Linked DNA regions of Homo sapiens. The protein of the gene in region 2 purifies or fractionates together with the protein of the main gene of each other region. This does not show direct contact. Each region holds a gene or a part of one and is shown on either strand. Other genes may lie near its edges. The genes, in order: LRRC8E and OR4D6.

Region 1 (3,821 bases), on a different chromosome or scaffold from region 2:
GCCAAGCTGAAGGCTAGTCAGCCCTGGGGGTAGGAGGTGACCAGGACACCTGAGTTTCTAAAGGGGCTACAGCCCAGAATCACAGGCAGAAACCAGAGACCTGGGCTCTGAGAGGGGGCAATGGGGTGTCCGGATGTCCGAGGAGGAAGGAGGATTTGCAAATGGAAAGTTGTCAGGTGACATCTGCGACCAGGCTAGGGCTGTGCTGTCAGGCTCCTGGCCGGCCCACTCTGTCTGTTCCCAGGGTCTCCTTTTAGACCAAGCTATCACTATTACAGATACAGACAGGCCAGCCACAAATCACACTGGGGCGTGGGGCATGAGCTGAGATGTCACTCTCCCAGGCAGGTACCTACTTCCCCAGAGGCTGGAGGTGGAACAAGGAAGGTGGGGAACCTTAGACCAGCCCACTTCTGCCAACATCCAAGTTCCCCCACTCCTGGGAGCCTCCTGTCCTTGTCCAGATAGATAATCTGTAACTGGGGCTGGGCGCGGTGGCTCATGCCTGTAATCCCAGCACTATGGGAAGCTGAGGCAGGTGGATCACTTGAGGTTAGGAGTTCGAGACCAGTGAGGCCAACATGGTGAAACCCAGAGTCTACTAAAAATACACAAAAAATTAACCAGGTGTGGTGACACACACCTGTAATCCTAGCTACTCTGGAGGCTGAGGTGGGAGGGTCTTGATCCGGGGAGGCAGAGGTGGCAGTGAAGTGAGACCGTGCCACTGCACTCCAGCCTGGGTGACAGAGTGAGACTCCATCTCAAACAAACAAAACAAAAGACAAAGATAATCTGTAACGGGACAGGAGTTGGGCCAAGAAGGAGGGCATCTGCCCATCAGGGAGTTATCTCTGGCTCCCCATCCATCTCCCCAGGAAGAATCTAGGGAAACCCTGGTCCCCTGACCCACGACTCAGCCAATGGTTCTGACATGTCTGAGCCTCCCTTTTCAGTTTGTGTCCCCCCCATATTTTGGGGTGACTCCTGGGTTAAAACAAGGTAGGATACAGGCTCCACCCACCAAGCTAAAGGCCAAGCAGTCCCGAAAGACCACATCCTTTTACCCCCTCAGAGGCCCCCACTTCAGTCTGGGGAATCAGATAGGCAGGCAAGGGTGTGGGTACAGCCTGCCCACACGGGGACTCACCATGCAAGTGTAAAATGTCATAGGTTGGGCCAGGCGCAGTGGCTCACGTCTGTAATCCCAGCACTTTGGGAGGCCAAGGCAGGCGGATCACAAGGTCAGGAGTTCGAAACCAGCCTGGCCAGCATGGTGAAACCCCGTCTCTTCTAAAAATACAAAAATTAGCCGGGCATGGTGGCATGAACCTGTAGTCCCAGCTAGGCAGGAGAATCGCTTGAACCCGGGAAGCGGAGGTTGTGGTGAGCTGAGATCGTGCCACTGCAATCTAGCCTGGGAGACGGAGCGAGACTCTGTCTCGGGAAAAAAAAAAAAAAAAGTCATGGGTTCCCTGACTCAGGCAGTGACTCACCCAGACCCAGATCCATGCAAGGGGGTGCCCAGAGCACAGGGTCCTTCGCACCATGGCCTGGCCCTCATGCTCATTCACACTCCCTGCCCTAAGCAAAAAGCCAAGTATACTTTGGGAGGCCGAGGTGGGCAGATCACTTGAGGTTAGGAGTTCGAGACCAGCCTGGCCAACATGGTGAAACTCCGTCTCTATTAAAAATACAAAAATTAGCCAGGTGCGGTGGCTCACGCCTGTAATCCCAGCACTTTGGGAGGCCGAGGCAGGCAAATCACAAGGTCAGGAGTTAGGGACCAGCCTGGCCAACGTGATGAAACCCCGTCTCTACTAAAAATACAAAAAATTAGCTGGGCGTGGTGGCAGGTGCCTGTAATCCCAGCTACTAGGGAGGCTGAGGCAGGAGGATCGCTTGAACCTGGGAGGCAGAGGTTGCAGTGAGCTGAGATTGCGCCACTGCACTCTAGCCCAGACAATAGTGCAAGACTCTGTCTCAAAACTAAAACAAAATAAAAATAAAAATACAAAACAGCCAGTCATGGTGGAGGGTGCCTGTAGTCCCGGTTACTCGGGAGGCTGAGGCACGAAAACCCCTTGAACCCGGGAGGCGGAGGTTGCAGTCAGCCAAGATTGCACTACTGCATTCCAGCCTGGGCGACAGAGCAAGACCCTGTCTCTAAAAAAGAGAAGAGAAGAGAAAAGAAACCCGACTACAAATATCCCAGTCTGCCTGGGTCACCAGTATGTAATCTGGTAGAAACATACCAGGATAGCTCAACTGTCCCCAGGGGAAGAATATGTACATTGCACCCACCAAAATGGACGCTTGGGGTCATTTTGGGTCATGCATATTTGTGCACGAGGGTATAAAGTCCAAGTACACACACTGAGCTTCGGAGGGACCCAGCACCAGGGACCCTCACGTCCTGTTTTGGTTCCGGCCATCCATTGAGTCCTCCAAGGATCCTGCAGGGACACTGCTCAGTTGCTTTACCTAAGAATGCTGACCCCAGGCTGGGTGCAGTGGCTCAGGCCTGTAATTCCAGCACTTTGGGAGGCTGAGGCAGGAGGATTGCTTGAGCCCAGGAGTTTGAGCAGCCAGGACAACATAGTCAGACCCCATTTCTACAAAAAAATCTAAAAATTTGGGCCGGGTGCGGTGGCTCACGCCTGTAATCCCAGCACTTTGGGAGGCCGAGGTGGGTGGATCACGAGGTCAGGAGATTGAGACCATCCTGGCTAATGCGGCGAAACCCCGTCTCTACTAAAAATACAAAAAATTAGCCGGGCATAGTGGCAGACGCCTGTAGTCCCAGCTACTTGGGAGGCTGAGGCAGGAGAATGGCGTGAACCTGGGAGGCAGAGCCTGCAGTGAGCCAAGATTGCACAACTGTACTCCAGCCTGGGCGACAGAGCGAGACTCCGTCTCAAAAAAAAAAAAAAAATCTAAAATCTTGCCAGGTGTGGTGGTGCATGCCTGTAGTCCCAGCTACTTGGAAGACTGAGGTGGGAGGATTGCTTGAACCCAGGAGTTAGAGGCTGCAGTGAGCCATGAACCAGCCTGGGCAAGACCCTATCTCAAACACAGCAAGCAAAACACTACTGACTGGGGCCGGGCGCGGTGGCTCTCGCCTGTAATCCCAGCACTTTGGGAGGCCAAGGTAGGCGGATAATTTGAGGTCAGGAGTTCCAGACCAGCCTGGCCAACATGGTGAAACCTCGTCTCTACTAAAAATACAAAAACAATTAGCCAGGCATGGTGGTGGATGCCTGTAATCCCAGCTACTCAGGAGAGTGAGGCAGGAGAATTGCTTAAACTCGGGAGACAGAAGCTGCAGTGAGCCAAGATCTCGCCACTGCACTCCAGCCTGGGCGACAGAGCGAGACTCCGTCTCAAAAAAACAAAACAAAACAAAAACTCCTGACTCTGGAGGCTGCAGAAGAAATCACACAACACACACACACACACACAAACACACACACACACACACACACCCGAGCAGGGACCAACTTCCTGTCCTTGCCACCCTGGTGTAAGCTCCACCAATAGCCATCCCAGGTGCACAATCGCAGACAAGAAGGCAGCAACACTCAGGGGACCGGGGGGCAGCCACAGGGGCTATCATTATCTGTCTCCATGACTCAAACTTGATCCTCACAAACCTGCCATTAAATTTCCACAGACATAAAATAGGCCCCCACTTTGTCTGAGCAGGGCTGGTGGGAAGGTCCAGGAACAGGGGCTCGAAGAATTGGGGCAGAGCCAGGGAAAATAAAACGATGGGACGTATACGCTCAGCTTTCTCCACCAGACACTGAATGCCTCATTTT
Region 2 (3,000 bases):
GGCAGGAGAATGGCGTGAACCCAGGAGGTGGAGTTTGCAGTGAGCCAAGATCGCGCCACTGCACTCCAGCCTGGGCAACAGAGCAAGACTCCGTCCCAAAAAAATAAAATAAAATAAAATAAAATAAAATAAAATAAAATCAAGTGATTTCAATAATTGACTGGATATAGCAGAGTCACCAGAGAAAGCATATATGAAATAAATGTGTCTATATTCTGTGTATATGCACATTTAGGAAGAGAGGGGTAGGTAATAGGGAATGTTGATTGAATACCTGATTAATGCCAGGAGCAGTACTAACCTTCACAACTATCATCCTCACAGCATTGATCACATTTCATTCTTTTGACAAACTTGTGAGCAAGTAATGATATTTCCATATTACTGGTGCTAAAAGTGAGATAAGTGTTGGTATGAGTCACAGGTAACACCAAAAAGCATTTAGGGTATTGATTTCAACCTTATACCCTCTTCTTCTCCTGAGTCCACAAGCTCGATAGCTCACATTGTTTAATCTCATTTCTTCTTTTTGTTTGTATACTCCCGCTAATAGAATCGAGCGGCTATGAAGATATACAATGAAGTAGTGGAAGAAGAGCTAGCGACCTGTTACTCTTAGGCTAGCATTTTGAGAAAACTAAGTCAGACAGACTTCCACTCTCCATCTGACTGCTCACCCCCATTTTCTGCTCTCGGAAGGCCCAAGTCTCCTCTGCAGCCTCTGCATGGCTGACTTCATCTCTTGATTTCTCAGGGAATAGATGATGGGGTTCAGCATGGGGGTAATGACCGTGTTATTAATGGATATGGTTGTGTCCATGGGCAGCGTCATGAAGGGCCGGCAGTAGATGTAAACACAAGGCACGAAGTGAAGAGTCACCACCAGCATGTGGGACGTGCACGTGGAGAGGGCCTTGTTCCGCCCCTCCCCAGAGTGGGATCTCAGCATCACCAGAATGACAGTGTAGGAGCCCAGGAGCAGGAGGAACCAGAGCAGGGTCACCAGTCCGTTGTTAGAGATCATGAAAAGCTCCAAAGCAAAGGTGTCAGTGCAGGCCAGTTTTACCACCTGGAGCACATAACAGTAGAAGGCATCCAGTGTGTTGGGGCCACAGAAGGGGAATGGAAGCATCAGAATTACCTGGATGATTGAATGCAAACCACCACTCACCCAAGAAGCCACCACCAAGGCCACCCACACCTCTTTCCTCATCATGGTCACATAGTGCAGGGGCTTGGCGATTGCAAGGTATCTGTCATAGGCCATCACAGAGAGGAAAAAAATATCTGCCCCACCAGCAAAGTGGAAGAAAAAGATCTGTGCCATGCAGTCATTGTAGGAGATGGTTTTCCTGTCTGATAAAAGATCCACCAGGAACTTGGGGACGGTGATAGATGAAAAAACGATGTCCAGGACTGATTTGTTCCGCAGGAGAAAGTACATAGGAGTGTGTAGGCGGGACTCACAGGTAATAGTGACCACAATGAGTGCATTTCCCAGGACTGTTGCTACATACACAGCAAAGAAGACCACAAACAAGAAAAACTCCAGCTCTCGGGAACGTGTAAGTTCCAGGAAGAAAAACTCCTTCACATTAGTGTGGTTGATCTGGTCCATGATGGGGATGACTCTCTTCCAGGTCCTACCTTTGATGAAGATATGTTAGAACTTGGATTATGGTGACATGAGGTGGCAAAATCATTGATCACATACTGCTCTCAAGCATCCAGGTCATCATGACTACACAGAAAAACTGGGCCAGTCTTCTCTTTGTGGTCTGGAAATTCTTCTTTCATATGGTTCTTCTTTCTTATTGTAAATACCTTGGGTTAACAGGAAAAAACCATCACATGTCTGTATCCTCACTCTGACCAGAGAGAGATGGATGGACTATGGCCATTTGCCTATGCTTTACCAAGGGCTTTCACCTGCAATAGCTCATACTGATTTCAATTCTCATGAAGTTTCTGAAGAGTCTTTAGTATGGTTATCTCCATTTTATATACGGGGAAACTGAAGCTTTACAGCAGTTAATGACTTACATCTGCATAGTCGCAAAATTAGTGAATTGTAAATTGAGGATTCAAATACAAATCAATCTCCTGACTTGAGAAAGATTCCCTCCTTGACCAAATGTTGGTTAGGCTCCTCTGAGCCCTTTTCTTGACTATGACTCAACCTTGACCTTCTGTGTCTGTCTTTGCTGAGCCCAATTTTAACAGGAATCTTGCCAAGTCAGTTTAATGAGAATTCCACACCCTTGAAATCTAATCAAATTCCTCACCCCTTACCCTTTTATATATTTATTATTTTTAACCTCATCCCTCACCCTCAATATCTAAGTCCTTGGCCAGTCTTTAGCAAGAATTCTTTTATGCCAGTTTAGCAAGAACCACCCTACCTTTGATATCACTTCTTAGTAATTTTCAATCCACTGACCTCCCTCACTCTGCTCATTGCTTATAAATCTTCACTTGTTTTCACTATATTTCGAGTTGAGCTCAATCTTTTTCTTCTATTGCAAGAGTTTTAAATGAAATCTATCTTCCTGTCTTTAATAATTGTCTGGTGAATAATTTTTCTTTAACATAACAGTCTCCAGAGGTTTTTCCACTGTACAACTCTGAGAAATCAGAGAGTCTGGGGCTTACTTTGGCTTACCGGAATTCTAGTGTGTATATAAGGCTTAAACAGTTTATTAAGTAGTTTGACTACCTAATCCTTATCTCATCCCTTATAAAAAGAGAAGGGTCAGGCCCTCATAAGTACTCCTCTTTGGCACTCTGGGAAGCCTGGACCTTGCTATTGACACACAGGGCTCTTTGTATAGAGCCACAGTCATTGTTCAGGGCATGTTTTAGTATCACAGAAAAACTGATCATTAGAGCGTCACAGGACTTCAGAGATAAATTAGTCTAATGTTTCTTACTTTAGAAGTGACTAGAGAAGGACATTTATTTTTTTCAGAATCAGAGTTTGAATTGGTGAAATATAGAGAA

What was found.
Region 1: the proteins of OR4D6 (region 2) and LRRC8E purify together in Homo sapiens (affinity purification with mass spectrometry; one large-scale study listed by BioGRID and IntAct). This does not show direct contact.

The regions. Positions count from the first base shown.
Region 1 is NC_000019.10:7,891,189-7,895,009, reverse strand, and holds part of LRRC8E (volume-regulated anion channel subunit LRRC8E), read right to left. Parts: intron 1,438-3,821; exon of another isoform or gene 1,151-1,437; intron 491-1,150; exon of another isoform or gene 1-490. UniProt on the Homo sapiens protein: Non-essential component of the volume-regulated anion channel (VRAC, also named VSOAC channel), an anion channel required to maintain a constant cell volume in response to extracellular or intracellular osmotic changes.
Region 2 is NC_000011.10:59,455,579-59,458,578, reverse strand, and holds OR4D6 (olfactory receptor 4D6), read right to left. Parts: upstream 1,619-3,000; coding exon 674-1,618; downstream 1-673. UniProt on the Homo sapiens protein: Odorant receptor.